3 linked regions of the Homo sapiens genome follow. The protein of the gene in region 1 binds, or shares a complex with, the protein of each later gene. Each region holds a gene or a part of one and is shown in the gene's direction. Other genes may lie near its edges.

What was found.
Region 2: MYBL2 (region 1) and TFDP2 share a complex: the UniProt entries of both Homo sapiens proteins name them as parts of the DREAM complex.
Region 3: MYBL2 (region 1) and LIN54 share a complex: the UniProt entries of both Homo sapiens proteins name them as parts of the DREAM complex.

Annotation. Positions count from the first base shown.
Region 1 is NC_000020.11:43,709,147-43,718,715, forward strand, and holds the end of MYBL2 (myb-related protein B), read left to right. Parts: intron 1-816; coding exon 817-916; intron 917-2,341; coding exon 2,342-2,455; intron 2,456-3,855; coding exon 3,856-3,960; intron 3,961-5,987; coding exon 5,988-6,137; intron 6,138-6,812; coding exon 6,813-6,941; 3' UTR 6,942-7,336; downstream 7,337-9,569. UniProt on the Homo sapiens protein: Transcription factor involved in the regulation of cell survival, proliferation, and differentiation. Transactivates the expression of the CLU gene.
Region 2 is NC_000003.12:141,954,475-141,966,174, reverse strand, and holds part of TFDP2 (transcription factor Dp-2), read left to right. Parts: intron 1-2,211; coding exon 2,212-2,363; intron 2,364-6,334; coding exon 6,335-6,501; intron 6,502-11,700. UniProt on the Homo sapiens protein: Can stimulate E2F-dependent transcription.
Region 3 is NC_000004.12:82,928,631-82,940,330, reverse strand, and holds part of LIN54 (protein lin-54 homolog), read left to right. Parts: intron 1-368; coding exon 369-442; intron 443-594; coding exon 595-792; intron 793-1,826; coding exon 1,827-1,918; intron 1,919-3,032; coding exon 3,033-3,104; intron 3,105-3,949; coding exon 3,950-4,052; intron 4,053-4,212; coding exon 4,213-4,350; intron 4,351-9,185; coding exon 9,186-9,388; intron 9,389-11,700. UniProt on the Homo sapiens protein: Component of the DREAM complex, a multiprotein complex that can both act as a transcription activator or repressor depending on the context. In G0 phase, the complex binds to more than 800 promoters and is required for repression of E2F target genes.

The DNA of each region.
Region 1 (9,569 bases):
CCTGGGGTGTTTCTCTCATCCTCTGAGTGCCCTGGTTATGCCATGAGAGTCAGCCATGGTGGTATCTCCAGGTGACTAAGGTCACATACCAGCACACAAGGGTTCGTGTTTGTGGAACCTGGTAGCTTCCTTCAGAGCTGACATTTGCCCACAGCCAGCCTGGCCCAGCCCCATACCACCAGCCCTGGCGCTCTGGGGCGTGAGGTGCCTTTTCTGCCCCCCTGCTCTAGGGCAGGTGGAAATCACCCATGGTGGGTCTACATCTGATAGAAGCATCTTATAGTTCTGCTTCTGGACCAGACCATCCTGGGTTTTTCTCTGTTCTGCTGAAGGGTTCCCTCCACGTGTCCATCACCTCGGTGAACTCTTGGGAGACCTGGGAAGATGCTGGCCTCACCTCTCGCCCCTCCTTTCCCTCATTGTGCTGCCACCATCCTTCTCACACAGGCTCTCCAGGGAGAGCTGGGCAGGATGGGATCTTCCTGGGTTCCCACCTTGCTCCGTGCCCCCTCTCACTGTTCCTGAAGTGTGGCCACGGACTGCCTTGTTTTCTGGAAAGTCCCAAGTCTGGACCATGACTGAGCAGCATTCTCGGCTATCTGCCACCTGTCTGGGGCTCCTGGCCCCTCTTAGACTCCCCTCTCCCTTCTGTTTCCCCCGAGCCCCTGACTTGGACCTGCAGGGTGGGGAGAGGGATGGGACGAGAACCTGTGCTGGGGCCAAAGGTCGCACTGGGGGAAGGTGGAGCCAGGGCAGCAGAGTGCCTGGCGTCGGCCCCTATCCTGTCACTAGTTCCCCCGTTCTGGCCCCTGGCAGGTTTGTAACCCCAGATCAGAAGTACTCCATGGACAACACTCCCCACACGCCAACCCCGTTCAAGAACGCCCTGGAGAAGTACGGACCCCTGAAGCCCCTGGTACGTGGTGTGGTCGCTGCCGTGGATCTCTGCACAGTGGGATCCCTTCGGTTCATCCAACCATGTTCAGTCCACAGGACCCTTCCCTCTGAGGTCTCATTTGATTCTTTCTCCTGAGAAGATGCAGAGATCCTGATAATATAAATGGGGAAGCTGAGGCTGCTCTTTGTCACTTCCTCCGACTGCTCCTGAGCACCTGAGTTTGCAAGCACGCGCCGGCTGGTGCTAGAGACATGGTGGTATCCCGTGACACTCAGCCTCAGGATGGGGGAGACTGATGTGAAATACAAATAACTTAAACACTTTCAGGCAAAGATAAGCACTGGGCCTAGTTCAGAGAAGTGGCAAATTGCTACTCTGGCCTGTCTCTGACCAACTCCCAGTTCTCTACAGAGCACGGGAAAGCCCCTCGGGGACGTCTTTCCTGCAGTGTGCAGGCTGCCCTTCTCCCCTGCTCTTCCCAGTTGATGGGATGGTTGTGTTTTCTCTATGAAAAAAGGAGTTGGCACCTTGGGCTTTCTGAAACACACAGGTGTTTTAGAAATCAGTGGAGGGTGAGAGAAAGGCATGGTTGTGGAGGCACTGGACTGTGAACAAGGTCTGCAGCGGGTCCCCCTGCTGTCTCTCTCCACTGCATGGAGCCTCCTATGAAGCCCAAGGTGGCTGGGGGCTGAGGCTCCCTTGGGCCTGCCATGGAACTGATTCTGAGTCAAGCAGACTTTCCACGGACCATGCTACATGAGCCGAGGTGAGGCACTAGTTAGTGCTCCTTTCCTGTTGCAGTGGAGATTTGGCTCCTCTGTACTAAAATATCTGCATGCTCTCCAAACAGGTGTGAGGGCAAATCACATGACCTTGGCAGCTGTAATTAAAGTTTGTGGGGGCTTTTCGGATGACTTATGAGGAGTGGCTGTGATTCGCACCTTTCACTCTTAGTAGCACTCGCCCTCCCCTGTTCTCTGTTGCCTGAAGCTGGAGAGGTCCTTGGAACCCCGAGGCCTGAGAAAGGGAAATGGGTTTGAGAGCCCCCATTAGTGTGGAACAAAGGGTTGAGTGAGCCTGGGCTTTGAGCTGTCGGGGTCCTAATTCAGCAGCTGTGTGACTGTGTGCCAGGCTGTTGATCTCTGAGCTTCTGTTTCTACCTGCTTAAAATGACGGTTACTGCACAGGGCTGTGTGAGGGTTACAGTGCGTCTCTGGGCTGCTCCCAGCCATGGCAGGCCCCTGGGAATCAAGGTCATCAGCTGCTTGTCCAAGGCAGCAGTTAGTGGTTGTGAATGGTGCGTGTGAGATCTGCATCCTGGCGTCAGGCCTCCTTCCTGCCTTACCCAGGACAGCCCAGTTGCAGCTGGGTTGGTCCCACAGTCCCACACACACACAGCCCGAGTGTGGTGCCTCACGTGGGCTGCCCCGTGCCTACCCACAGCCACAGACCCCGCACCTGGAGGAGGACTTGAAGGAGGTGCTGCGTTCTGAGGCTGGCATCGAACTCATCATCGAGGACGACATCAGGCCCGAGAAGCAGAAGAGGAAGCCTGGGGTGAGTAGGGTAGGGGTGGGAGAGCCTGGGCAGGGGGAATTGGAGCCGTGGCATGGGGGAGGCGTCTGGGGACAGGTTGTAGAAAGTGAGGCGCTGGGGAGAATGGGGGCGTAGCATATCCCCTTTGCCCCCTTTCGCACGGTGGTTGTTGAGGAAACTGACAAGATAAGGACAGTGTCTCTGGGACCCTCCTCTGCTCTGCTTTGAAGGATTCACTTACTTATCCAGCATTGTGTTCGGACCCTGCTCAAGTTGGGCTGGGCTGGATGTGGTGGATGGAGCAGCAATTACGACCCAGACTGGATCTCCCCTTAGTGTTCAGGGGGCAGAGACAGATGCTAGACAGACACACCATGACTGAATTCACAGGGTACCAAGGGCCGCAGAAAGGGAGGTTCCAAAGGAATCTTTTGGGTGGAGGCGAGGCGGTCGGGATGAGCCAGCCAGGCCAGGCAGTGCCTGGCTGAGTGTCAAGCTGCATGAGCTGGGGGTGGGGGAGTGGGTTCAGGTGAGGTGGAGTCTGCAGGGGCTCCTGGGCAGGGGGGCAGGGAAGGGACTGTCCCAAGCCTCCGTTCTATGCCAGCCTCCCTCCCACTGCGTCGTTAGCTTTCATGACAGTGCGCGATCCCTTCGAGTCTCCTAGTGCTCCTTTTTCCCAGACTGCTCTCCTCAAGGGAGAGCTGGGAACGGTGGGATGTACAGGGTGTTAGGTAAGGAGGGGAGGTGGGCGGTCAGCCTGGGCGGGACTTGCCCGAGCTGGCACCCCATGTGCACGTGGAGAGAACTTGGCCTCTGGCCTCCAGGGTCCTCCCTGGCCTCTCCTTGGTGGGGATGGTTGTGAGCCATGGCAGCCCCTGCTGAGTGCACTGTTGGGTAGAGTGGGGATGTGACTCTCAGAGCCGCTCCCTGGTATCGGAGCAGGCCCTGGACCTGCTTCTGTGAGGTGCACGGTTAGGAATGGGGCGTTCCTTGATTGTATTAGGCATTGTAGAGGGGCTTGTCCTGAGGGGTTTGTGTTCCCATATTACTGGCCTGTGGGTGCTATTTTAGGTGTTACTGGGGTGATTCTCTGCTGGGCCTGTTTGAGGGGCTGTGTCTGGTCCATTCGGGGTGAGAACAGGTCACTTCGTGGTGGAGGTTCATGCTGTGTTCCTGCTCACTGTCGCAGCACCTGGCAGGATAGGGTCTACCTTGGGTACAGAGTCTAATGGGGCCATGGGGCCTAACTTTCCCAGCCACCCCATTCTTCTGACAGCAGATTCCCACTAGCTGGGCCTTGCTCCAAGTCTGCACTGCAGCAGGGCCTGGTTTTGTGACCATCCATGGCCATGACCATCCAGGTGCTGACCATGGGGAATCCAGACACTCACCCTAACCCCCTTCTATCTGCCAACCCCTAGCTGCGGCGGAGCCCCATCAAGAAAGTCCGGAAGTCTCTGGCTCTTGACATTGTGGATGAGGATGTGAAGCTGATGATGTCCACACTGCCCAAGTCTCTATCCTTGGTAAGGCTTCTGCTCCTTGGAACTGTTGAGTTTTGGAGAGGACCCTCAAGGTGGAGTTAGTGTAGTGACTCTCCAACTGGGCTTCTGGAACCCTGGGCTCTGCAGGGAGGGGCTATCAGGGAGGGTGGGTCCGGGCACCCACTCATGGCTTCAGTCAGCAGCTCTGCTTGTCTCTCACAGAAGGTTTTGTTTGGCAGAGTTGCGCGGCTAGGACATGTTTTAAAAACATGCATCTGGGTCTCCTGCGCTCTCCCAGAGAGGGTCAGTGATGTGTCTTTTTTTTTCTTTTTTTTTTTTTGAATTGGAATTTCGCTCTTGTTGCCCAGGCTGGAGTGCAATGGTGCCATCTCGGCTCACTGCAACCTCCGTCTCCCGAGTTCAAGTTGTTCTCCTGCCTCAGCCTCCCAAGTAGCTGGGATTACAGGCATGCATCACCACGCCCGGCTAATTTTGTATCTTTAGTAGAGACGGGGTTTCTCCATGTTGGTCAGGCTGGTCTCGAACTCCCCACCTCAGGTGATCTGCCTGCCTCGGCCTCCCAGAGTGCTGGGATTACAGGCGTGAGTCACCGTGCCCAGCCTAGTAATGTGTCTTAAGGTATAGCCAGGCACTTGGGCACATTAGTCCTGGGATGGGTGCTATACAGCCCCCAGGCCAGTGGACTTGCTGTGCCGGGTGCTACAGTGAGGTCGACCTCAGAAAGGGGGTTGTTGCCTGTGCAGAGCCTGGGTCCCCAGAAGCCAGGGTGTGCTGCTGATCCCTCTCTGCTCACAATGGGGTGAGTTGGCTTGCCCTGGCTCAGAGTGGGGAGGCGGTGAGAGGCATGGCGGCGTCATGAACAAAGGTTAAGGGTTGCCTGATCTTCCAAGTAGACTGCTGCCCTCACGGTCCTTGCAGAGAAACCTTGTCCTGGCTAGGGGTCTCTGACAGGCTGGGGACCTGCAGCCAGGTTACTGCAAAGAAAAAAACATCACCGCAGGGAGTGAAGAGCACAGATTGAGTCAGGTGGGCCTGGGTTTGAGTTATGACACCATCACTGCTCTCTGGGATCTTTCAGGTTCCCTGAGCCCCAGTTAAAAGCCTATAAAAGGGGTGCCAAGCCTAAGTCAGGAGGGCACAGTGCCAAGCAGAGCAGAGAGACTGGAAGGGCGTGGGAGGGGCTTTGTGCAACTCCGCTGTGCTTGGGGTTGAAGCTGCGTCTTTATGATGCTTGTGGATGTTTCTGGTCCCAGGAAAACTAGGAACAGCCTTGGCTCCTCCTGAGGCTTTATGTGACAAAGCCAACGTTATTGAGTATGTTATTACTGGATAATGCTCAGTGATACTCCACATTTATTGATTATGTTATTATGGCCTGGGGGCTGCACGGCACCCATCCCAGGGCTGATGTGCCCCCACGTACTTGACTGTGCCTCCAGACACACCACTGAATCAGGCTCTGAAACGCACACACGTTTCTTTACTTGATTACTTGATTTTTTTTTTTTAAGTAAGAAAGTTCTTTAGAACAAGATTAAGTTCTTTGCTTAATTTTTTTTTGAGACGGAGTCTGGCTCTGTCTCCCAGGCTGGAATGCAGTGGTGCAATCTCGGCTCACTGCAAGCTCCACCTCCTCCCAGGTTCGCACCATTCTTCTGCCTCAGCCTCCCAAGTAGCTGGGACAACAGGCGCCCACCACCACACCCAGCTAATTTTTGTGTTTTTAGTAGAGACGGGGTTTCACCCTGTTGACCAGGATGGTCTCGATCTCTTGACCTCGTGATCCGCCTGCCTCGGCCTCCCAAAGTGCTGGGATTACAGGCGTGAGCCACCGCTCCTGGCCCTTTGCTTAATCTTTTAAGTATAAAGTAAGCTTAAGCTCATGTAAACTCCCTATCTGAAAGCAGAAACTGAGGCTTGGAAAAGTGTGTATCCTCTTTCAGGTCTCAGCAGCCAGGTGGTGGTGCTGGGGTGGGATTGCGGGTTTTTTTCTTCCCTCTCACAGCTTCTCGCAAAATGGTGACTCCTTGACTTGGTTTTGGTTTCAGCCGACAACTGCCCCTTCAAACTCTTCCAGCCTCACCCTGTCAGGTATCAAAGAAGACAACAGCTTGCTCAACCAGGGCTTCTTGCAGGCCAAGCCCGAGAAGGCAGCAGTGGCCCAGAAGCCCCGAAGCCACTTCACGACACCTGCCCCTGTGAGTGCTGTGGCCATCTCTGGGGGTCCTGCAGTGCCCGCCTTCTTAGCTCAGGGCTGAGTGCTGGCCATCCCTGGGGGTCCTGCAGTGCCCGCCTTCTTAGCTCAGGGCCTTTGCATAGGCTGTTCCTCTGCCTGGGTGCTTTTCCTGCTACTTCCCGTGGCTGCATTTGCTTAACTTACTCTTCTGATTTCAGTCTCAATGCTGCTTCCTTAGGGGTAAGCCTTCTCTGACCCTACATTCTGTAGAGATACCCCCATTCTGCCATTCTCTCTTTTGTGGCCTGGGTTTCACTTGTAACTAAGTCATTATCCCTGTATTTGGTTTGCTTAGTACATGTCTGTCCTCAAGCAGGGGCTGGCTTCAGGCTGCTGACCCGTCTCACTGCTCCTTCTCACCCGCCTCCTGGCTGTGGCTTCTCCTCGAGGCTGGTGCTGCACGGGGCGGGCAGTGCATGGCCATGTCTCCTTGTCCAGCGTCCTACTTACAGTTGAGGAAGCCCACAGCCAGGAAGTGACTTGTCCAGGGTCACAGGGAATGTGGAGAGAGAATAAGAAGGCTCTGGCTTCTAGGGGAGGGAGGCTTATAACTCTACCCTTCCCTGGCCAGGATCACCAGGGTCTGTTGGGAACACATAGTCCCTGCCTGGATGGTAACCCTCTTGCCTCCTCCCAGATGTCCAGTGCCTGGAAGACGGTGGCCTGCGGGGGGACCAGGGACCAGCTTTTCATGCAGGAGAAAGCCCGGCAGCTCCTGGGCCGCCTGAAGCCCAGCCACACATCTCGGACCCTCATCTTGTCCTGAGGTGTTGAGGGTGTCACGAGCCCATTCTCATGTTTACAGGGGTTGTGGGGGCAGAGGGGGTCTGTGAATCTGAGAGTCATTCAGGTGACCTCCTGCAGGGAGCCTTCTGCCACCAGCCCCTCCCCAGACTCTCAGGTGGAGGCAACAGGGCCATGTGCTGCCCTGTTGCCGAGCCCAGCTGTGGGCGGCTCCTGGTGCTAACAACAAAGTTCCACTTCCAGGTCTGCCTGGTTCCCTCCCCAAGGCCACAGGGAGCTCCGTCAGCTTCTCCCAAGCCCACGTCAGGCCTGGCCTCATCTCAGACCCTGCTTAGGATGGGGGATGTGGCCAGGGGTGCTCCTGTGCTCACCCTCTCTTGGTGCATTTTTTTGGAAGAATAAAATTGCCTCTCTCTTTGTGCTGGTCTGGACTCTGCCTCTCTACTGGGCCCTGCTCATGGTTCCCTGGTGACCTAGGGGCCTCTTCTGGGATATAGGGACCTGAATGCTCATCCTCAGAGGCCAGCCTTATCGGCACAGCCCAGGCCTGAGCCCTTGACCCTGTTTCCACAGAGGGGCACAATGAGATGAGAGCAATTTCTCTCGTCTCTGCACCCAGTGGGCATCTCTGCAAAGCTCTGAGTATTAATAGCCATGGGGTTGGGCGGGGGTGGGCAGAGACTGGGGGCGGAGGAGGACGATGGGTTGGTGCAGTAGGGCCTTGCCTGGCCCTTGCCTTGGGTGGCTCACCTGCCCATTAACAAGCCCCTGCCTCAAGCTGAGCGTGGCCCCCAGGTCAGACCAGTAAGCAAGGAAGAGGGGTGAAGGCAGCTGGGCAGAACCCTCTAGCCCCATTGGCCAAGGCTGAGCAGGAGGCCAGGATGGGCCAGAGCCTCTGCCCTTGTGGCCCTAAATCCCTAGGGTTGTGGCTACAGAGCACAGTGCTTGGCAGGTGGTTGGGAAGAGTCACTGGGGATTGAAGAGGGGAAGATGCCAAGTCTGAGAATGTCTAAATGAGGAATTGATGTTTTCAGCAGCAGGCTTCATGGGACAGGCACATGAACATCCCTGTGGGCAGAGGTTGAGCAGACTTGGGGCAGGTCCTCACCTGGGGCAAGAGATGCGGCCAACTCTAGAGGGATGGGGACTGAGTTAATTAGGGTGCCAGAGTTCAGATGTGTCTGGCCTCAGACACACCCCTTTCTCCCTGCTGAGCTCCCGCCTACAGTCCCCCTACTCCTGTCCATTCACATGCAGGCATGCCGTGCTTGGTCCTGGCAGTGTCCCAGTTCTTGATCTAAAGCCGAGGAGGGGCGGGGGCTCTGTGCTTCCCACCCTGCACCCCGCACCCCGCAGCCCATGTGGCTGGGCTGCATGCACCTGCAGGTTCCATGGATGAACCACACCTAACTCACGCCCTGAGCTTTTGTGATTTGTCAGCATGGAGCCTATCCCCTCCCCAACTTCTTCCCCAAGGTCTGTCACTGGCCGCTCCCTACAGTCCTTGGTCACCCAAGGTGGATGACCTGTGCCCCACGGTGAGGATGGAGGCTGCATTACCTTGTCTCCTATAGCTCACACCAAGACTCGGTGGAACAACTTTGTCAAACTCAAATGCAGTGCGCTGCAGGCTAATGATGAAAATTCCTGGGCCCTCTGAGTCAGGTACCTGGGGTGGAGCCTGCAAAAAGGGATTTTTAACAAACCACCAGTGGGTTATTCACATGCAGGGCGTTGACTGGCTACACTCTGAGCTGACGCCTGTGAGGCTCCAGGGGCTTGTACCCCATGCCCTCTCTTGCCTGAGGTCTTGCTCATTCCCAGGGACTGCCCTCAGGCCCTTTCCTGTCCTGGAGGGAGGAGGCTGTAAAGAACAGAGTGGCTGCAGGTAACAGCAAGCTTAACATACCATCCTCACTGAGCTCTGTGTGCTGTGGGCTTGTTCTTTGGTTCATGCATTAAATAAATACTAGGCCGGGTATGGTGGCTCACGCCTGTAATCCCAACACTTTGGGAGGCCGAGGAGGCCAAATTGCTTGAGTCTAGGAGTTTGAGATAAGCTTGGGCAGCATCATGAAACCCTCTGTCTACTAAAAAAAAAATAGAAAAAATTAGCTGGGCATGGTGGCATGTGCCTTTAGTCCCAGCTCCTCGAGAGGCTGAGGTGGGAGAATCACCTGAGCCCAGGAGGTCGAGGCTGCAGTGAGCTGAGATCATTCCACTGCACTCCAGCCTGGGCAACCAGAGGGAGACACTGTCTCAAAAACAAAAACAAAACCACATTTATTGAGGGACCCTCCAACCCTACCCCCACATGTCTGGCATAGTTGTAGTGCTGAAGATATAGCAGTAAAGGATAGAAACCAGGCCAGGTGTGGTGGCTCATGCCTGTAATTTAGTACTTTAGGAGGCTGAGGTGGGAGGATCACTTGAGCCCAGGAGTTTGAGACCAGCCTGGGCAACATGGTGAAACCCCATCTCTACAAAAAATTTTAAAAACTTAGCATGATAGCATGATGGCTCATGCCTGTAGTCCCAGCTACTCAGGAAGCTGAGGTGGGAGGATCTCTTGAGCTGTGGTTGTGCCTCTCTACTCCGGCCTGAGTGACAAAGCAAGACCCTATCTCAAAAGACAAAAACCAAAAAACTA
Region 2 (11,700 bases), on another chromosome or scaffold:
ATAATAATAATAAAAACATTATGTTTTTACTGCTCTCTTCACTTGAAAAACCATTGATACTATTAAATGTACACAGCATTAAATAGTGAATCACAAATACATAAGGGCCATTAGTTATCACTGCTTATATTCCCCCATATACCAGGGTCCTCTTGTGGCACTAGGGACAGACACCAAGTTAGGCAAAGTGTAGGAACAGCTCTTGAGATGTGTATTCTAGTAAAAGGGAAGAGAAGCTATGCAGGAGTATTTAAGCATGTAATTCTTTTTCTCAGTTCCACAGTTTAATCATAATTTTTCCTCATTATTAAAGGAATTAAGCAATGAATTCGTTTTTTAGCAACAGAAAATAATGAAATGTAACCTCAATAATGTTTGGTAATGATATTGATAGTGCTAGTTATTGATAGTGATTTTTGGACACACTTAGGTCTACAATAAATTGGTGTTCATTATTTTTTGTGCTTTTCAAAGAGTAAATCTTCCCCTTTTGGGGAGATAGCACTCAGCCATTTTAAGATAATAGTAATCTTTTCTTTTCTTTTCTTTTTTCCTTTCCTTTCCTTTCCTTTCCTTTCCTTCCCCTTTCCTTCCCCTTCCCCTTCCCCTTCCCCTCCCCCTTCCCCTTCCCCTCCCTTCTCTTCCCTTCTTTTCTTTCCTTTTTTTCTTTTCTTTTTCTTCTTGAGAAAGGGCTCTGTTGCCCAGGTTGGAATGTAGTGGCACAGTCATAGCTCACTGCATCCTCCAACTCCTAGGCTCAAGAGAACTTCCCACTTCGGCCTCCCAAAGTGCTGAGATTACAGGTGTGAGCTACCATGCCTGGCCAATAATAGTAATCTTACTGAAACTTTAGTTAAGGTCCAGAACCTGAAATAAACAATACTGATCATAAGATTGCTAAAATGTAAAAAATAAATTTATCACTACTGGGTGACAAGATTATAACAAGCTAATGAAGGGGAATGAATGGCTCTGACTTGAGGAACTTTTAAAACGTTATCTGTTTCTTGAGCAGATGAAAAACTTGAACTGCATACAGTCTTTCTAGCTGTGAAATTCTATCGTACATTTACCTTATTAAAAAAAGGGAGATCACTTGTTTGTTTGTTGGTTGGTTTTTCTCAGACAGAGTTTTGCTCTTGTTGCCCAGGCTGGAGTGCAGTGGTGCAATCTCGGCTTACTGCAGCCTCCGTCTAAAAGGGAGATCACTTTCTTTGGCTTTTGAGTAATGGTTATAACTAAAAGTAGCGGCAAGATCCAGTAAAAAAATTTAGGCCTTGATGTATCTTATAATTAGTGCTGAGCCTCAGTTACCTCATCTGGAAATGTCTGGTTGGGGAAGGCTGGGGCTGGATTCCAAACTGTGCCCAGAGGCTGCTGAGAAGTTCTGTGGAGGTGCCTTAGAAACCATGTGGCTGTGCTTGAGGGCAGAGATGGCAGAGCTTAGGACCTGGCCTCACTGCAGCCAGCCTCAACAGCACCACTTCCATCTGTTTTACATGAGTTTTTTTTTGTTTTGTTTTGAGACAGGGTCTCATTCTGTCACCCAGGCTGGAATGGAGTGGTATGATCTCTGCTCACAGCAAATTCTGCCTCCTGGATTCAAACAATCCTCCCACCTCAGCCTCCTGGGTAGCTGGGACTATAGGCACATACCACCATGCCCAGCTAGTTTTTGTATTTTTTGTAGAGATAGGGTTTTGCCATGTTGCCCAGGTTGGCCTTAAACTCCTGGACTCAAGCAATCAACCTGCTTTGGCCTCCCAAAGTGTTGGGATTACAGGCGTGAGCCACTGTGCCCAGCCTCCCTCGAGATTTTATTTGAAGAAACAATTTTGTGCCTTTAAAATGTTTGCATATCCCTGGGCTACACATCCTAAAGTTTGGGGGCATATTTGACCCCAAACTGTCAGGAGTCTATGTTAGATAAATGGTATCACCCTTGCTGTGTCATTTGCTGAAGAGTTCCAGGTGCCTACTGGTTCTTTCCCAGATTGTGAGGTCCTGTTTCTATGGATGATGGAAAAATGTATTTATTGAGTTGGATCATTCTTTCTTAAATGTTTAATTTTTTAAATTAATTCATTAGTGCAGGCGGGATGTCTCTTTAAACTCTAATTTTAAACTATATTTAAAGGTATTATCTTAATTCTTTTAAATTCCAACTCACTTATGCACAATTGACCATATTGTTTTTATTGATCATTACAGCAAATCGCTTTCAAAAACCTGGTACAGAGAAATCGACAAAATGAGCAGCAAAACCAGGGCCCGCCGGCTCTGAACTCTACCATTCAGCTGCCATTCATAATCATCAATACAAGCAGAAAAACAGTCATAGATTGCAGCATCTCCAGTGACAAGTGAGTGGAGAACTAGGGATGGGTGCAGGGCTGGCCTTCTGTTAACATTTTCATATCATTTGCAAACTCAAGAAGGATGCACTTTATTAGTTGCACCCCTCAAAGGCTGGCTTCCTTGGGGCACATGAAACACCTCCTGAACCATGGGTGCAATCTTCCACTAGTGTGCGCTCCAACCCTCACCCTCTGTGGTCCCCTGTCTTGTGCCAGGCACTGTGCTGTCTGTATTATATGTGTGTGGCAGTGTCTGGGCCCAACCTATGACGTGCTGCATGTATGTGGTAACTCTGAGCAAGTAACTGTGATAAGTTAGCCCAGCACTGTGGGTCTGGGACAAGGTAGATTCATTGGTGATTCACCGTCATAGTTTATTACGGAAATATTTTAGGTCAACATGTGGCATTAAACCAATTATTTCTTTGTTTTGCTATATCATAGTTATGCATGCTTCTGTTTATTAATGAATGTATGAATAGACATGAAAATGCCTGGCACATTCTTTGCTTCCTTTAAATTGTGTTTTTACATTTTAACTAAGATCAATGATAATATTCATTATGGCAAATAAGAAGTAGCACTTTTCAAAATATAGAATTAATTTGTGATGTATTTTACCATTCATGAAAAAGTTTCTCTCAGTGGTCTTCAGGCTGTGACCAGTACCATAAAAGAGTTAAGAGTATATATAGGGTGCAGAGTGAGACGGATCCATGTACCGCTTATGGCTCCCCCACTTCGCTGCTGCAAAGCTCTGTTTTCTCAAGAACAAATAGGAATGATACTGGGTCCCCTATGACTTCCCAGCCTTGTGAGGATTAAATGAGTTAATGTCTATAATGACTTGAGGTAAGTGTTTTTTAAATGTTAGCTGCTGTTACAAAAGGTCAGCCTATAGTTTATTGTTCAAATAGGGATTTATTAATGCAAAAGAAGACTCTATAATAATTGCGTCAGTACCACAGGCATACCCCAGAACTGTCCCAGGGATACCAGAACTTCCTGTCTCCTAGGGCCCTGACATTGCCCTTGGGCTTCACTGCTACTTGTTTTCCCACTCTTCTTCCTGGCGCTCTTGCGCCCCCTGCCGGTCTCTGTTGTGTCCAGAGATTCCGGGCCACTCCACTAAGAAGGCACACACACAAAAGAAGAGTTAGCCAGGCGTGGTGGTTCACACCTGTAATCCCAGCACTCTGGGAGGCCGGAGGCTAGTGGATCACCTGAGATCAGGAGTTCGAGACCAGCCTGGCCAACATAGTGAAACCCTGTCTCTACTAAAAATACAAAAATTAGCCAGGCTTGGTGGCGCACGCCTGTAGTCCCAGCTACTAGGGAGGCCAAGGCAGGAGAAACGCTTGAACCTGGGAGGCAGGGGTTGCAGTGAACCGAGATTGTGCCACTACACTCCAGCCTGGACGACAGAGCAAGACTCTGTCTCGAAAAAAGAAAAAAGAAAAAAACAGCAGGAATTTCAAAACTATTTGATAATTGAGACTATAGACACAAAAAGAAATAGTAGAGGTTATGAAGTAAACCAGAACCAATAAATTTTTTTTTAAGAGTGGATTCTTGGCCGGGCGTGTTGGCTCATGCCTGTAATCCCAGCACTTTGGGAGGCCAAGGCAGGCAGATCACCTGTGGTCAAGAGTTTGAGACCAGCCTGACCAACATGGTGAAACCCTGTGGCTACTAAAAATACAAAAATTAGCGTGATGATGCACACCTGTAATCCCAGCTACTCGGGAGGCTGAGGCAGGAGAATCACTTGAACCCAGGAGGCAGAGGTTGCAGTGACCCAAGATTGTACCATTGCACTCCAGCCTGGGCAGCAAGAGCAAAACTCCGTCCCCCCCAAAAAAAGAGTGGATTCTCACTGTTCTCACTGTTGCCCAGGTTGGAGTGCAGTGGCTATTTACAGGCACGATTATAGCTCACTGCAGCCTCAAACTCCTGGGCTCAAGCGGTCCCCCTGCCTCAGCCTTCCTAGTAGCCAGGACTGCAGGTGCACACTTCCTTGGCCAACTAAAGCTGATCCATTTTTTAATCTTCTAAGTTTCTTAACCTCTCTGAGATCATGTTCCTTTCTCCACAAAAATAAGAATTATAGTATTTACCTTGCCAGTTTCAAAAAGTTATGGGTAAATTAATATACAACCCAGCCCAGTGGTCAGTAAGTGGTAGATATCTGAATTATTTTCCACACACTTGCAAATTCTTTATAAATATATGTCAAAGAGGACCATTAACATAGTCTCAGAAAACTGAGAATTCAGGCCGGGCACGGTGGCTCACACCTGTAATCCCAGCACTTTGGGAGGCCAAGGTGGGTGGATCATAAGGTCAGGAGTTCGAGACCAACCTGACCAACATGGTAAAACCCCCATTTCTACTAAAAATACAAAAATTAGCCAGGCATGGTGGCACGCGCCTGTACTCCCAGCTACTCAGGAGGCTGAGGCAGGAGAATCACTTGAACCCAGGAGGTGAAGTTTGCATTGAGCCGAGATCGTGCCACTGCACTCCAGCCTGGGCGACAGAGCAAGACTCTGTCTCAAAAAAAAAAAAAAAAAAAAAAAACAACAAAAAACTGAGAATTCTGGAAAATGGTTAGCATCTTTTCAGATAAAAAACACAAAACTTAGCATTCTAGTTACTCTCTCAAATTAGTCTCTTGTTTTGTATGGAGAATTATAAAACTATCTTAGGTTAGTCTCTTAAGTCTAAAAAGAATGATGGGAAAATCTGGGAATCATTGGCCTAGGGTATTGTGGACACTGTTCCCCCAGGCTGGAATCTGGTGAGGCTTCCATCTCTTGGGTGGTCCCTGACTCATGCCCTTTCCTTGGCCTTCCTTTGAGTGGAGGGAAGGAGGCTCTGAGTAGCTTGTACAAGCTTGTTATCCGACGTAGGTCCAAAAACCCTTTCAGTTACTTTGGTGATGCAGTCTTTCCCCATAATTAGCCAAGAGGCTTTCCACAATGAGGATTACATTTACAAAACGATCTGCTTTTAACAGATGCCTGAAATCATCCCTGTGGCAGGCACCCACTTCAGATTTTTTTTTTTAAGTTGTTATTGTACTTTAATCAAATTCATATACTTTAGATTACTTAAATTGGTATTTTGCTTCAAATTATAATTTTTGCTTCTAAGATAATCTGTTATTCAAATTATCTTAGATAGGGTATAAAGTTTTACCCTCACATGATTTTAATAGAATTTCATGACCAGGTGAAACCTACCATTGTCCCCAAACCCTGTCCCTGCAGGGCTGAGGCCCATGATGAAGGTGCTCCAGGCCTAGCCTAGGAGTCGGAAGGACTGTGTCTTCCTTCTTTTGCCTCTTGATTAACGTGTGTTGGGCTGCTGGGAAGCTGGGAATCCAATTTGGGTACTTTCCAAACATATTTGGAAACGTGCTTGTATTACATGTGACATTTTTTCTTAAAACATTTTACTCCTTAGCCTCTCAGGACAGGATTTGGGGTTGTTTTCACTTGTTGAAAGTCTTCTATTTATTGCTTATCTGAAGTAGGCTGTAGCTAACATTTGACTCATGAAAATGAAGTAAGCATTCAAAATGTTTTTTTCCTCAAAGCTAACAGGCCAACTCGGAATAGGGATATCGTAATATTAAAGTAGAAAGGCTTTTCTTTTGTGGCAAAGCTGTAGGCAACTTTGAGAAGTACTGGATTTAGAATAAAATTTCTATCCTCTGTTTGTAACAGAGTTAGGGCTAAAGTTTGTGGGTTTCTATCATCTGTCAGAGGAATGTTGTTTTAATTGGGAAAGTGTTTTATTTGAGATGTCATTCCCCTGACAGAGCAGAATGACTCATGGCTCTCTAAATGGTAGCAATTTCTAGCACTATAGCTGGATTTAGGCCCCCATTCTGTTACTTAAACTATAGAATACAAAACTATTCAGACCTCTCCAGCACCACCAAAAACCCTTTACTTTGTTTCCTGATGCAGGTTTGAGTATCTTTTCAATTTTGACAACACCTTTGAGATCCATGATGACATAGAAGTACTAAAGCGGATGGGAATGTCGTTTGGCCTGGAGTCAGGCAAATGCTCTCTGGAGGATCTGAAACTTGCGAAATCCCTGGTGCCAAAGGCTTTAGAAGGTTATATCACAGGTATGTTAACTGATGCTTTCATGTGTTGTCCCTGATTAAATGTTGAATCCAAACTTGTTAAAACCTTTCTTATAGAAAATTGCAAAATTTTAGAACATCTGTGCTTGTGTCGACAAACTGAAACCTTTAACACTTTAGGACCATTTTTTCAAAAATTAGATTAAATAGTTTGTTTCATAACATTATGAACTTACATCTATACACCACACATTATATACTATTACATCTAAATTGGCTCACTCAGCACTGAATTTGGCTCTTCAGAGAGATCTTGTAATTCCCAGTACCTAGCTTAGAGCCTAGTTAGAGTAAGCTAGTAAAAGCTCAATGAGGGAGTTTTAAAAAATCTTCTCTTAGTGCCCTGTGGATACTTCAAGGGAAACTTTGGGCAATTTACAAAAGAAAGTAGGTACATCCTGGCCGGGCGCTGCAGCTCACACCTGTAATCCCAGCACTTTGGGAAGCCAAGACGGGTGGATCACCTGAGGTCGGGAGTTCGAGACCAGCCTGGCCAACATGGTGAAACCCTGTCTCTACTAAAAAAATACAAAAAATTAGCCGGGCGTGATGGCACATATCTGTAATCCCAGCTACTCAGGAGGCTGAGGCAGGAGAATCACTTGAACCTGGGAGGTGGAGGTTGCAATGAGCTGAGATCGCCATTGCACTCTAGCCTGGGCAAGAAGAGTGAAACTCTGTCTCAAAAAAAAAAAAAAAAAAAAAAAAGTAGGTACATCCTACTTCCCTCTAATGGAAAATTTAGTATATCTATTATCTGCCCATACATAAAAACATTTGATTAATTGAATTCAGAGAGGAGGAGTGGACTGAAAGTTTAAATGTCAGGGGAAAAAAGGGCAGAACGGGGTAAACCTGGATTCACATTTGTGTACGCTGCTCCTCTTTACAGTAAAACTTCTCAAGTTGACCATATTTACTGTTCCTTCTTCCTCTTTCCCCAGTCTTAAATTGTTCTTATTAAATACTGAGTAGATACAAAGGTTGTTTACGTCTGTAGACTCTGAAGGGTCACAGTACAGTAGACCCCCATGAATCCAGCACCCAGCTGAGGAAAGCACATTACTGTTCCAGTCCACTGCATGCCCCTGCCCCAGGCTCTGTGCCCTTTCCCACCCCTCAAATATAACCATTCTCTTACATTTCATTGTCATTCACTTGCATTTCTTTAGAGATAAACCAAAATGGTAAACTGGAAATAATGTATTATTTAGTTTTGCCTACTTCTGGCCTCTATATAAGTGAAGTCATAGTAATATACTCTTTGGTGATTTGATTTTTTTTCACTCGATATTATGTTCTTTAGAGTCATCCATGTGATTTAATATAGATATAATTCATACATTCTTACTCCTGTGTAAAATTCCATTATATGAATACATCACAGCTTATCTGTTTATTTTACTGAAAATAAACTGTTTGTTTCCGATTGCTTGATGTTAAAATACAGTGCTGCTTTGAACATTCCTATACATGTATCCCAGTGACCACATGCAAACGTACAGATTGAACTTGTTAGGTCAGAGTTGGGTACATCTTCAGCTTTACTAGATGATACCAAAAATTTTCAATTTGATTTTACCAAATTACACGTTCCCCAGCAGAGTAGAAGTGTTCTATTTTCCTAATCAGGTGGGTCTGAAATGATACCATTGTAGCTTTTCTAAATTGAGATTGAATTCACATGCCATAAAATACACCATTTAAAAATGTCAGTTCAGTGATGTTTTGGTATATTCACAAGGTTGCTAATCATCACCACTATCTGATTCCAGAATATTTTAATTTAAAAACCCAAAAAGAAACCCAAACCCATTAACAGTCTCTATTCCCCCATTCTCCCTCAGCCCCTGGCAACCACTAATCTACTTTGTGTCACTATGGATTTGCCTATTCTAGAAAGACGCTTTATGTGAATGGAACCCTACAGCATGGGGCATTTTGTGGATAGCTTCTTTCACTTAGTGTAGTGTTTCAAGGTTCGTTCATGTTGTAGCACCATCAGTATTTCATTCCTCTTTATTGCCAAATACTATTCCATTGTATGGATGGACCACATTTTGTTTATCCATTCATCAGTTGGTAGATATTTGGACTGTTTCCACTTTTTGGCTATCTCGAATGATGCTGCTGTTAACATTCTTATAAAAGTTTATGTGTAAACATATGTTTTTATCTCTAAAAACATATACCTACGAGTGAAATTGCTGGGTCATATGGTAACTCTGTGTTTAACATTTTAAGGAAATACCAAACTGTTTTCCAAAGCTCCTGTACCATTTACAGTCCAACCAGTGGATAAGTGTTCCAATTTCTCCACATCCTTACTTACTTATTTAGAGACGGAGTCTCACTCTGTCGCCCAAGCTGGAGTGCGGTGACGTAATTTGGCTCACTGCAACCTCCACCTCCCAGGTTCAAGTGATTCTCCTGCCTCAGCCTCCTGAGTAGCTGGGATTACAGGCACCTTGCCGCTATGCCCGGTTAGTTTTGGTATTTTTAGTAGAGACAGGATTTCACCATGTTGGCCAGGCTGATCTGGAACTCTTGGCCTGAATTCACCTGCCTCAGCCTCCCAAAGTGTTGGGATTATACATGTGAGCCACCGTGCCTGCCCTCCATATCCTTTTCTACACTTGTCACTATACATCTTTTGAATTATAGCCATCCTCACAGAAGTGAAGTGATATCTCGCTGTGATTTTTGTGGGGGGGGTGGGGCAGGGTGGTGGTGGAGGGGAGAGAGTCTTGCTCTCCAGGCTGGAGTGCAGTGGCGCAATCTCTGCTCACTGCAGCCTCGAACTCATGGGCTCAAACGATCCACCCACCTCAGCCTCCTGAGTAGCTGGGACCACAGATGTGTGCCACCATGCCCGGTTAAATCTTTTTTTTTTTTTTGATATGTTTGGTAGAGATGGGGTTTTGCCATGTTGTCCAGGCTAGTCTCAAAGTTCTGAGCTCAAGCGATCCACCTGCCTTGGCTCCCACTGTGATTTTGATTTGCATTTCCATAATGACTTCTGATGTTGAGCATCTTTTCATGTGTTTATTGACTATTTGTATGTCTTCCTCAGAAATATGTCTATTCACATTGACTTTTTTTTTGAGATGGAGTCTCTCTCTGTTACCCAGGCTGGAGTGCAATGGTGCAGTCTCAGCTCACTGCAAGCTCCACCTCCCGGGTTCAGGCGATTCTCCTGTCTCAGCCTCCCAAGTAGCTGGAATTACAGGCGCCCACCACCACGCCCAGCTAATTTTTGTATTTTTAGTAGAGACAGGGTTTCACCACGTTGGCCAGGCTGGTCTCGAACTCCTGACCTCAGGTGATCCACCCGCTTCGGCCTCCCACAGTCCATCCTTTGCTCATTTTTAAGTAGAGTTACTTGTCTTTTTATAGAGTTGTAAAGTTATACTGAGTATACTTGAAAACAGAAGCACTATGTTTTACATGTCCTATAATTAAGATTTTTTTCACTAATTTAGAAATCTTCCTGATTTTCCTAATTCCTGAAAATATTACATATTTTGTAGATACAATTTGACTATATAGGTTGGGTGCGGTGGCTTACGCCTGTGATCCCAGCACTTTGGGAGGCTGAGGCAGGCATATCACTTGAGGTTAGGAGTTCAAGACCAGGCTGACCAACATGGCAAAACCCCATCTCTACTAAAAATACAAAAATTAGCCAGGCATGGTGACACATGCCTGTAATTCCAGTTATTTGAGAGGCTGGGGCAGGAAAATCACTTGAACCTGGGAGGCAGAGGTTGCAGTGAACGGAGATTGCACCACTGCACTCCAGCCTGGGCAACAGAGCGAGACTCTGTCTTTTAAAAAAAGAAATGAATATATAAGCAGTGTTTTTGCCTTTGCTTTCTTTTGTTTATTTTATTTGTAAGTATAACCATCTAGAATTTCACATCGCTTTTTAAAGGCATTTTAATACTAGGTCTAAGATACATTAAATCCAATGTAAGCAAAAAGGTAGCTTTAATTTTGTTTTATTCTATGATTTGGTCCTTTGCTCACAACAGAAGAGTTTGTTGGCTGAGATTTGGTTTCTGTTTTAGTTCTTCGGTTGGCACCATTCATCCCCTGCAAGGGCCCCCCGCCTCTCCTTGCCCCTCAGCCCACCTGTTCCGTCTCCCCACCCAGCTTTCCTCTCTCCACGCTCTCCAGCCTGGGTCCTGCTGTGTCATTGGAAGGCCAGCAGAATCTGAATAAAGGGCTTACTCAATAAATCACCAGAACTTTATTTTAGCTTACTCCCAGTGAAAAGGCTCAGGGCGATTAGGCAGGCTCTGTGGTTTTGATCTCTTCGTGACCTCATTTGCAGACTGGGATACAGACTTTCTGGTTAGTTCAAAGGAAGAAACATGTGCCTCTCGTGTGTAAAGGGGCAGAATGGCCTGGGTGGGAGTGTGAGAACCATTGTGTGGATCCTGTGATAATAGGAAAGAAATGTAGGCTTTTCCAATTCATTGTAAAAAGAGAATGTAATGTGTTATGCTCACAAACAAGTAAATAGCTGTGTTCTGACAGAAGGTTTCTATAGTTCTATATACTAATTAATATTCAGCACAAGATTCTGGCTTTAATTTTATTTTCTTGTACAGACTTGTCGTTATTTAATGTATTTAAAGTCTGCTATTCTTCTTAGACTTGAAGTCTCTTTTTTTTCCCAGCTGTCTCAAAGAAAAAGGTTCATAAGACGGTTCTAAAATTAGCATAGTCATTTAGTTTACTTTTTTCCTACGTGGGAATGGCCTCTTGTTTGGATACCAGAGTTTCCAATCTAAATCATATAGTTTCATTTTTTTGTATAGTAATTGCAAAAAGATTTTGATTCAATTAAATCATAGCTCATTTTGGCAGATTACATTTTCTGAGTATGTGTTTGGGCTTATAGAATTTCTTTTTAGGAATTACTTTTAATGTATCTACCACTTATTTTGTAAAGTGGCAGCTGACAGAGACTATACTCATTCATTCAGTAACTTTTTTGTTTTTTTGTTTTTTTTTGTTTTTTTTGAGACAGTCACTCAGGCTGGAGTGCAGTGGCACGATCTCAGCTCACTGCAACCTCCGCCTCCTGGGTTCAAGTGATTCTCCTGCCTCAGTCTCTCTAGTAGCTGGGATTACAGGCATGTATCACCATGCCTGGCTAATTTTTGTATTTTT
Region 3 (11,700 bases), on another chromosome or scaffold:
TGCTGTTGTTACTCAAGCTTATGAATGACAGTTCTTTTATTTATACATTTCATTTGACTGGATTTAGTACTGAATGTATAAATCATCTGAATACAGATTGAAGTATTTTCATTTGAATGTCTTGAACCTACAAATATTCCCTCACAAAGTGGATAGACTGTAGCCACCTTAGATATAAGTTCTCTGGTAGATGGGGTAAGCAATTTTGAAAGGTAACTATCCTGATTAAAGATTGCTCAAATTAGGAATCAAATGGAATTCTTTAAGCTCTTTTATGAGAATAACTTGGGAGAGCTAAGTATTCTTAAGTGTTTTAAATACTATTTTCTGTAAATAACTTGTTCATCCTTCTTTTGTTTTTTAAAAAGCAAAGCCAGTGGTTGTTAATACAACCCCAGTGCGGATGTCAGTTCCAATTGTCTCAGCTCAGGCTGTCAAACAAGTAAGTATCACATAACTTCTTTCTCAGTCTTTCCCAAATAGACGATTTACTTTTTAAATAGAAAGTTAAGATTTAGGTGCAAGAGATTTATACTGAATTGAACAGCTGTAAAATTTATTTTGTGGTCATTGATATATGTCCCTTCTTTTTAGGTTGTTCCAAAACCAATCAATCCAACTTCACAAATAGTAACTACTAGCCAGCCACAGCAACGGCTTATCATGCCTGCCACACCACTGCCACAGATCCAGCCCAACCTCACTAACCTGCCACCAGGCACTGTCCTGGCACCAGCTCCGGGAACAGGGAATGTGGGTTATGCAGTGCTTCCAGCTCAGTATGTTACTCAGGTATGTGGAAAAAATGAAGTCATTGTATTGCAAAAGTGATAATGGGGTCCAAGATGTCTAGTGCTATCACAGAAGCTACTCAAACACATCTAACTCAGTATTGAAGTGGCACTTTCCAAAATCTTAAAATGTTAACCCAAACCTTTAAGTTTATTTCTATGTACTTTTAGCATTTAGAAATATATAACACAGGTCAGATATACAAGTCAGACAATTTGGAGCTGAGAGCAGCTTGGCAGGAGCGCAAGCCTGTGGCGATATGATAGAAAATAGACTGAAGTTAAAATCAGCAGAGTCCAAATGAATTTAGAAAAGACTGTGGCTGTTATAAAGCTCTTCCTCACACATAAATTTGATGCCACTGACTTGGAAAATAAGCCCAAGTTTATTTATTGGAAAATAAACTGTGAGATGCATTTCCAGGTGACATATCTTCAGCGATCTATCTACTCTTACTGGTCATCTTTAGAATGAAAGACGGGGAAACAAACCCACACGTGTACTTTTTAATGAAATACACTTTGGAACATGTTATGTGGCTATTGATAAAAAGAATAATGTTCAGTATTTTTGTCATAAGCATTTCTAATGTTTAGAAGTTGGTGTAAAATAGAAACTCAACTATTGTGCATGTAACTTCTCATTCTCTGTAATTTGTAGTGTGATAAATGATCAGTATAGTACCTATTTTATTTGTAAGTAGGCACATTGCATTTTTCTAGCCCAAACAAGTTATTACAGTACTTTGAGAGCATTCATCTAGCATTTCCTATCATTCCGACATACTTAACTCTTCTGTGAAATACTTTCTTTATATTTGTACTATGTAGTACTGTAAAATGTTCACATTATTTTCACCTATAGTATTGGTTTGAGTCTTTAAAAGAGCTCTGTGAAGTATGTGTTTGTGTGATATTCTCCATTGTGTTTTTCTTATCTTAATGGATGAATTTGTATTTCTTACTGATCATCATACCTGACAGTATTGTCCATTTTTGGAAATATGATCTAAAATTAATTTTCTTTACATGTAGCTACAGCAGTCTTCATATGTATCAATAGCAAGCAACTCTACCTTTACTGGAACATCTGGTATCCAGACCCAGGCACGGCTTCCATTCAATGGGTGAGTATTTTGAAAATAGGTACATAAGTTGTTAGATCAGCTTAAATGCAACAGTAAATATATATATTCCAAACTACATCCTCTTTTATTTTTTTCCCCTTAAAGCCATGTGAGCATGCCTCTAAAATACTTGTTGAAATATTTCAAACAGAAAAATTACAGAAATAGTCAATTCCCAAATACTCTATTCAGATTCACCAATTTCACTACACTAGTTTTATTATTCTCTTTCATTCTGAGTATGTTTCCAAAATGATGATGCTAACTATTTTTTATCTTTATTTTTCAAGACAAGGTCTTGCTCTGTTGCCCAGGCTGGAGTGCAGTGCTGTGATCTCAGCTCACTGCAACCTCCCAGGCTCAAGCAATCCTCCTGCCTCAGCCTCCTGAGTAGCTGGAACTCTATGCACATGCCACCATGCTCTCCTAATTTTTAAATTTTTTTGTAGAGATGCGGTCTCACTATATTGCCCAGGCTAATCTCCACCTCCTGGGCTCAAGTGATCCTCCTGGCTCAGTCTCCCAGAGTGCTGGGATTCCAGGCTTAAGCCACTGCACCTGCCCAACTATTTTTAAAATTATGTGAGGTCCTCATTTTTTGTTGATGTTTATTTGTTTATCTATTAATTACTGGCTTTTGCAATATCAGCTTAGAAGCCGTGCTTAATTACCCGGAATCAGTCCACATCCCACTTCCATTTCCTCCTCCACACACTCCTTTTCCTCACTGCTTTTTATAATTGAATCCCAAGAGTTTTGAGGCAATCTCAACTTTTGTTTTCTTAGAAGGGACAGTGTTTGTGGAGTGTTCTTTAGCAGCTATTGATAACTTCTTTTAAAAAAATTATTCCATACTTGTCTCTACCTCTTTCATGTTACAACTTGCCTTTGAACCTAGTGTAAATAGAACAACGTAGCAAACTTTTTATTTTAGATGGACACATTTAACATTGGTTAAAGCTTTATTTCTGGAGGGATTTATAGATTGGAGACTTCTCTAATTTTAAATTAGTTTTAGGTCTAATTTTTTAAATTTTAAATTAGTTGTAGCAACTAAATTAATTTTAGTTACTATTAATTGATTAAATGTATATCTTTTTTTCTATCTGTACAGCATAATCCCATCAGAGTCGGCCAGTCGGCCCCGAAAGCCCTGTAATTGTACAAAATCACTGTGTTTGAAATTGTAAGTGTTTTTGCAACTGTTTGCTTATTTAATGTAATTAGAAATGCACTTAAAAGTAAATGGAGTTAACTAAAAATTTTTAGCAGACCAAAGCTCATAAGTCTAAGTAATTTAAATAAACATACAAATGAATGTTTGAACATATATGGCAGTGTAAAAATATTATTTCATTCATCTAGAAAGAAATATTTAGAGTCCTTACCATACATGAATCACTGGAGTAGGGGTTAGGGACATAGCAGCATGAGACAGACATAGCTTCTGCCCTTAATAATAATGTTTGATCTTATTTATGACTTTTGTATTTGGTCTCCTAAGTGATGATACTCTAGGTAGTTTTAAAAGTCACTGAATGGTTAATTTGCTTATTAGCATTAAAAAGACTTGACATGAAATAGTTAAATGAAAAGCATTGGTCTTATTGGGGCATAGAATCCAAAGTACTATTACTATAACTCAGATGAGCCAGTTCAACTATTAGAATATAGCTAGTGTTTTTCCTTTTTCAGAATTTTGAAATGCCTTACTTTGGGGGCACATAAAATTTATATGTGTGACATATAATTTATATAATTTATATGTGTGACAGCTCTTGTGTGACAGCTGTTATTGGTTGGACTAAGTTTTTAGGCCACATTTCTAGTACTTGGTGATTTAAACTTTGAGCCTTAGTATGTGGTTGACAATATGTGTTGTTAACTCTTTAACTGGGTAGCTGAGTAGATTTCTGAGATGCTTTACCACATATGTAGTATGTGTACAATATATATACAATGTATGCATAATCAGATAATTAGTTTTCCTTAATAATGACTTTTTACCTTATACTGACTTTTACCTTTCAGGTATTGTGATTGCTTTGCAAATGGTGAATTTTGCAACAACTGCAATTGTACTAATTGTTACAACAATTTGGAACATGAAAATGAAAGGCAAAAAGCAATAAAGGTGATTATTTTTTATTTCATTTAACTGACAGAAATATCCAGTTTCATCAGTTTTATAAAACTCAATTGTCTTGCAAAGAAACGTTATCAATTCCTTTTGCAGTGTTTAAATTTCATCTACTGTGATTTAACTCTAACTGATATTTGATCTGTTTTGCTAGGCATGCCTTGACAGAAATCCAGAAGCCTTTAAGCCTAAGATAGGGAAAGGAAAGGAGGGAGAATCTGATCGACGTCATAGCAAAGGGTGTAATTGCAAACGATCAGGATGTCTTAAAAACTACTGTGAATGCTATGAGGTGAGATGCTGGGTGCGGAAAATAATATCTTTTAAAAACAGTTTTAGAAAGGACCTACTACAAAAATTTACTTGAAAATTGGGAAATCACCTTGCTATTGCAATTTGAAAATATGCACAGTTGGTGCAAAGGCCCTTGTTTTAGGAAGGCCTTCGAGCCTCTGTAGCAGGGCTTCGGAGGAATACCTTGGGTTTATTATTACAGCTTGGGGTCTTACTGGGTGATTTACCATAACTTCTTGGTCATTATGCTCAGAAAGTATGCAGATCAGAACACCAATATATTGATTTTCAATAAAAATAATATCAAAGTGGATTGGAAACTCTCCAGCAGTGATTCTCACCTGAGGTGCAGTTCTACTTACTGTTCTTCACAGGCTTCTTAGAAATATATGGCCGGGTGCGGTGGCTCACACCTGTAATCCCAGCACTTTGGGAGGCAGAGGCGGGCAGATCACTTGAGGTCAGGAGTTCGAGACCTGCCTGGTCAACATGGTGAAACCCCGTCTGTACTAAAATACAAAAATTAGCCGGGCATGGTGGCAGGTGCCTGTAATCCCAGCTACTCGGGAGGCTGAGGCACGAGAATCGCTTGAACCCAGGAGGTGGAGATTGCAGTGAGCCGAGATCATGGCACTGCACTCCAGCTTGGGCAACAGAGCAAGACTCTGTCTCAAATATATAAATATATATTATAAATATATAAATATATATATATATATGGATACAAAATAGCCTGCATCCCAAGGTACAGTCTGGAAATTAAAGGATTATCTTGACCAAAATGCTGGTTATGCCCACTCAAAGAGCACACTGCTCTGCGGAAAACCAAAGTATGTTAAGTTTGCTTTGTGAGCATAAAAATAGGAAAGGGGGATCTGGCATTCTGCTGGATGAGGTTACTGGTCACGGTAGGCAATTGTCTCCATTTTCACTGTTTTGTTGTTCCACTGAGCTGGTTATTTTTACTTATGGGTCAGGCGTCTTCTCTGGAAGATGTAGTTGAAACTCTGCTCTGACAAATGCCATATAAATCTTCCCCTTCTTGCTTTAGACACAGTACTATATAGTTTTATTTTAGAAGCTTATGTGTAACAATCTAGTGATTGAGATTAACCCTAGATTACCATAATTGGTTTCTTGGTATGCCTGAAACTCTTTACTGACAGTCTTTTGGGTGGTTGAGTTATTCCTCTTCTTGGCTCTTCTCATACTCTCATATATTTTCATTCTTTCTTATTCTCAGAGAATTAATTAATTAATTAGTTTATTTATTTATTGGCAGAAAGCCTAGCTTTGCACTTGCTGAAGGTTTGCCCTGCCACAGGAGCATGTCCTCCAGTTCAGTGCCCTCTCCCATACAGCATGTGTCATATGAAAGATTTTGTGTATTGCATTCTCTGTGTAATGAATTCTTTCCTAATCTACTTATTTACAAAGTCAAATACTCCTCTCAGGAAGTAAAGTAGAATAGGGAATAGGAGAGTAACATCTTGTGAGTTCTGCAGATGATATGAATGAAAATTGCATAAAGAGACAAGTTTTTTGTTGTTGTTGTTGTTGTTATTTTGTTTTTGAGACGGAGTCTCGCCCTGTCGCCCAGGCTGGAGTGCAGTGGTGCGATCTTGGCTCACTGTAATATCCGTCTCCTGGGTTCAAGCGATTCTCCTGCCTCAGCTTCCCAAGTAGGTGGGATTACAGGCACCTGCCACCATGCCCAGGTAATTTTTGTATTTTTTGTTTTTAGTAGAGACAGGGTTTCACCACGTTGGCCCGGTTGCTCTCAAACTCAAGTGATCCGCCCACCCATCAGCCTCCCAAAATGTTGGGATTACAGGCATGAGCCACCGTCGCAAGTTGATTTTTTAAACTGTCTTAACATCTCAAAATCCAACAAGCCAGTTTTCATCCAGTGTTGGAATCTTTTTTAGTCTTTCTTCTTTTGAATACCTGATGAAATAGCCGGCTTGCGTTTAGAAGCCATATCATACAAAAATTGTCACGAATATGTAAAAATTAACACTTCTTTTCAGAACATGGAAATTTATGTAAAGTTGGATCAGAAGGGTAAAGCGACCCTTTCATGTATATGGCATTGAAAAATCAATACATGCTGGGCATATGAAATTCAGACATATAGGAACTAACCATTTAATTGAACTGGTTAACAACCTGTGAATTAATAGAAGTAGAAAAGGTACTGGACTGGTTTAAAAGTGTTAGAAGAGACAGCCCTACCCTACCTATTCTAATGAAATTTTGTCGGGACAGATACACTGTCTAGTAACAAATTTATCATTCCAAAAGTTATGTACCAAAAAATGGAGAAACTTAGAATATACTAAACTATGAATAGCAGTGGCTAGTTGGCTGTAAATTAGCTGTGGGCTTATCTGACATTTTGTGTTGAACTGTTCTTTTGACACCTTGTTCTTCAGCTGAATTGGCTTTTTAATCCTGTTGGTTTGCATCTGGACAACACATTCATGTGTCCTTTCAATGCCTATAGGCTTGTTGATTGGATGAATGGCTACCCACCTTATTTCATGGCTGTGTCTTTTCTTGTGACCATTTTCCTCCCCTCCACATCTTTTTTTTTTTTGGTATAGGGGAAGTTAAATTCGCCAAGCTAAATGTCATTGTAATTTCTCCATCTGAGCTCCGGTTAGACACTATTAATGTCTTTCCTATGGTTCTTAAAATATAAAGATAATTTTTAAAAAACAAATATATATATATATATAAAATCTAAATTACCATTATTGGTATGTTTTCCCCACTCTGAGGTCAGGAATTTTCTCTCGTCATCACTAGATGCTTATTAAGTATTGCTTTAGTTAGATTCCCATTCAGGCTCACAGTAACCCAGTTAACACAAACTTACATCCATTTTTTCCTTTGGTAAGTGGAATTTATTGGTGTCTTATAAGAAAGGAGCAGAGTAAATGTGTTTATAATGCAGCCCGTTTATCTTGCTAGGTGCTATAGAGAGAAAGGACAGTTTTATTTATTTATATAGACATGGGTTCATTGAAGAAAACACAGCTAACAAAAACATACTCAAATTCGTTAGAAATCAGGGAAATATACATTAAAGAACAGTGAAATCTCACTTTATCATCCCCACCATCAGATTATATATATATATATTTTTTTGAGATGGTGTTTCATTCTTATTGCCTAGGCTGGAGTGCAATCGCGTGATCGCGGCTCACTGCAACCTCCGCCTCCCGGGTTCAAGCGATTCTCCTGCCTCAGCCTCTCGAGTAGCTGAGATTACAGGCATGTGCCACCATGCCTGGCTAATTTTTTTTTTTTTTTTTTAAAGAGAGATGGGGTTTCTCCATGTTGGTCAGGCTGGTCTTGAACTCCGGACCTCAGGTGATCCTCCCACCTCGGCCTCCCAAAGTGCTGGGATTTCAGGCGTGAGCCACCGCGCCTGGCATAAAATGTTAAAAGGAATTATAATATTCATTGTTGGAGGGAATGTGGGAAAGCCTTCCTTTACACATTGCTGATGAGATGTGAGGTATTACAGCCTTTTGAAAAAGCAATCTGGCTACATCTCTTAAAATTCAAATACACAGGCCAGGCGCGGTGGCTCACATCTGTAATCCCAGCACTTTGGGAGGCCGAGGCGGGTGAATCACGAGGTCAGGAGGTCGGGACCATCCTGGCTAACACGGTGAAACCCCGTCTCTACTAAAAATACAAAAAAAATTAGCCGGGCGTGGTGGCGGGTGCCTGTAGTCCCAGCTACTCGGGAGGCTGAGGCAAGAGAATGGCGTGAACCTGGGAGGCGGAGCTTGCAGTGAGCTGAGATCGCGCCACTGCACTCCAGCCTGGGAGACAGAGCGAGACTCCATCTCAAAAAAAAAAAAAAAAAAAATTAAAATACACAGACCTGTTAACCAGTGAGCCCAATTCTAGAAATCTAACTCAGAGAAATAAAAAGGCATAATGTATAACAAAAAAGTCTTTTTATGCATCATTTGTGGTACCCAAGAACTGGAAACAAAAATAAACACCCATCAATAGGGAAATGAATGCCCAATAAAATTGACACATCATACCAGGGATTTACACCTAGCTGTTAAATAGAATGAATTCAAGCTATGCCAGATGACTTTGGAGGGATTCCATGAGTTGTAAGAAAAGCAAGATGCAGAAAAGCAGATAATATGATTTTGAAAAACTAAAAAATGAAAGTTCTATATTTGTATATACATAAGGTCTAGGATTTTATATATACTTACATTTGACATATTTTTACATGAAAATATATATTTATATGAAATGTAAAATACACACTAGTTTCATATGGGTTATTGAAGGGTTTGGGGAATCTGAAGTCCCTCCCGAACTCCCTCTTCAGATTAAAAATAGCATAATAGAATAATAAAAATGGCATCTGTGAAATCCCTTTAATGTGAAATTGTATACATATGCATAAATGGGAGGTCATCTATATGTTAATGATGATTTGATTGAGGTGGCTGGATTCTGGATGACCTTTATTTTTGATATTTTAGGATATCATTCATGTTTATGAAAAACATGTGTAACTCATATCTGAAGAAAATCTATATTCATAGTGGGGGAAAACTGACATGGAAGGACACAGCCACAAACGTTGTACAGCCACTGTCAGACTTAAGAATACCTAACCTAGCTAGCCACATGTGTAGTTACTGTTTGTCAGCCAGAGATACTTCCATCTAATCTTATTATCAGTTGACCAGGTAATGCTATTAGCTGTTGATTTGATTGTGGCATCTACTTATAGTAATGTATTTTGGTTTTGATTTGGAAACTTTTCTTATGTAAATCTTTTAGGCAAAAATAATGTGTTCCTCAATATGCAAATGTATTGGCTGTAAGAATTTTGAAGAAAGCCCGGAAAGGAAGACATTGATGCATTTGGCAGATGCAGCTGAAGTAAGGGTACAGCAACAAACAGCAGCCAAGACGAAGTTATCCTCTCAAATTTCAGACTTGCTTACTAGGCCAACACCAGCTTTAAATAGTGGAGGCGGAAAGTAAGTCAGTATTTTAATCTTTTTATAGTACTTCCCAAATACTTTTGGTAAAGTTTCTTTTCAGGGGGCAAAGTTGAGTTTATATTTTTGGTTGTTGCAAACCTGATTTTTGTGTTTTCTTTCCATCTTTAGTTACTTGTAAAGGAATTTAAAGGTAACAGAAACCACTGTCAGATTATTGTGCAGTTCGAAAATGCACAGTAATGATTTAGTCCACTGTGCTTAATTTCTGTCTACTAAGATGAGGTAATTATGTAATTTGAGGAACCCCAAAGAAAAGCAGATGTTCATATGTCTCGCTGAACGTGTAATTATGTTTTTGCATTTTCCTACCTTCTCTTGCCTTTTCCATTTCTTGGAGCACTTTTCCCATCCTATTGGACCACCCATCACACTGTAATAGTGCAGCTCCGTATTGTTATCTCTTTCATCTGCTGAGCTCTGGAGTAGAAAAGCCTGACCTCTAAAGTCAGGTAGACTTGAGTTTATACTATCTGTGCTACTTAGTAGTTTGTGAATCTCTTTGAGCCTCAGTTTTCTTATCCTTAAAATAGCCTATACCAGGTGGCTGTGAGGAATAAGGCATGTCTATAATATCTCCAGTGTTTGTCAAGACCTGATAAAACATAGTTTGTGATTTGGACTGGACTGGACTGGTATTAGAAAGTTTGTTAGAGGTTAATCTGAGGAATTATTAAATGGAATGAGCCTTGCAAATGGCATATTATTTAAAATGCCTAAGTAGGCCAGGCACAGTGGCTCACGCCTATAATCCCAGCACTTTGGGAGGCCAAGGTGGGCAGATCACCTGAGGTCAGGAGTTTGAGACTAGCCTGGCCAACATGGTGAAACCCCATCTCTACTAAAAATACAAAAAATTAGCTGGGCATGGTGGTGTGCGCCTGTAATCCCAGCTACTTGGGAGGCTGACGCAGGAGAATCGCTTGAGCCTGGGAGGCAGAGGTTGCAGTGAGCCAAGATCACGCAATTGCACTCCAGCTTGGGCAACAAGAGCAAACTCCGTCTCAAAAATAAAATGCCTAAACTGAAAATGAGATCCAGTGCTTATAAAAATAAGGCTTTTTTGTACAAAATATTTAAGATATTAGTTTTGGTTTTTTGTTTTGTTTTCTTTTTGAGATAGAGTCTCACTCTGTTGCCCAGGCTGGTGTGCAGTGTCATGATCTCAGCTCACTGCAATCTCCGCCTCCTGGGTTTAAGCAATTCTCCTGCCTCAGCCTCCTAAGTAGCTGGGATTACAGGCATACACCACGACGCCCAGCTAAATTTATGTATTTTTGGTAGAGATGAGGTCTCACTATGTTGGCCAGCCTGGTCTTGAACGCCTGACCTCAGGTGATCTGCCCATCTCAGTCTCCCAAAGTGCTGGGATTACAGGCATGAGCTACCATGCCTGGCCTTAAGATATTAGTTCTAAAGAACTCTTGACTGGAATATAAACAGCAAATGGTTTTTGACTGAATAAAGTGGAAGTGGTCAGGCACCTTAATAAGACTTATAACCTGGGATTCTTTCTGGTCTTTAGAGTATTGAATCTAATCTCCACATGGAGATTAAAGATACTGCTACAGTAAAATATTTATAATTAATTTTTAAAATTGGGAAGATGTTAACAATATGAAAACAAAATTATAAAATTATAATTATAATCAAAATTACATATTAAAAACTTGTATAAAAAAAGTTATGCTAGCATGTTAACAAGCTTGTTTCAAGTGACCAAAACCTTAAATTAATATTTTCTAGTTTAAAGTGCTTGTTTGTATGTTAAAGATTCCTATACAGCTGCATGGCAGCCTGAATTCTCAATTACCCTCTCTTGCCATAGTGAGCTTTAATTTCAGACTTCATTATTTAGTATACTTCTGTTAGTGACCGCTTACTCACAGGTTGTTGAGTTAGTGGTTTAGATTATGTTGCTTGACTTAATCTGTCACAGGCTTTAAGACTTGAGTTGGCTGCAAATATAGCAAGCCTCACGATGGGTTGCTCCAATTTAATACTCAATAGCTCAGGTCTTTATGAATGCAACTCTGTGTACAGAACATTTGGTTTCGCCATTTTGTTTTGTTGTGCTAGAACGATGCAGAATTTTGGAATGTTTTCTACAAACAGTATCAGTGACTATGGTAAAGTGCTTTATTTTTCATTTTGCCGAAGAGATAGTGCTGTCAATTCCCAGTATTATTCATTCATTCAGCAACTATTCATGTAGCGTCTCTATGTCATGCACTATTCTAGGCACTGGAGCAACAGCAGTAAATAAGAATTGAACTTACAGAGCGTACATT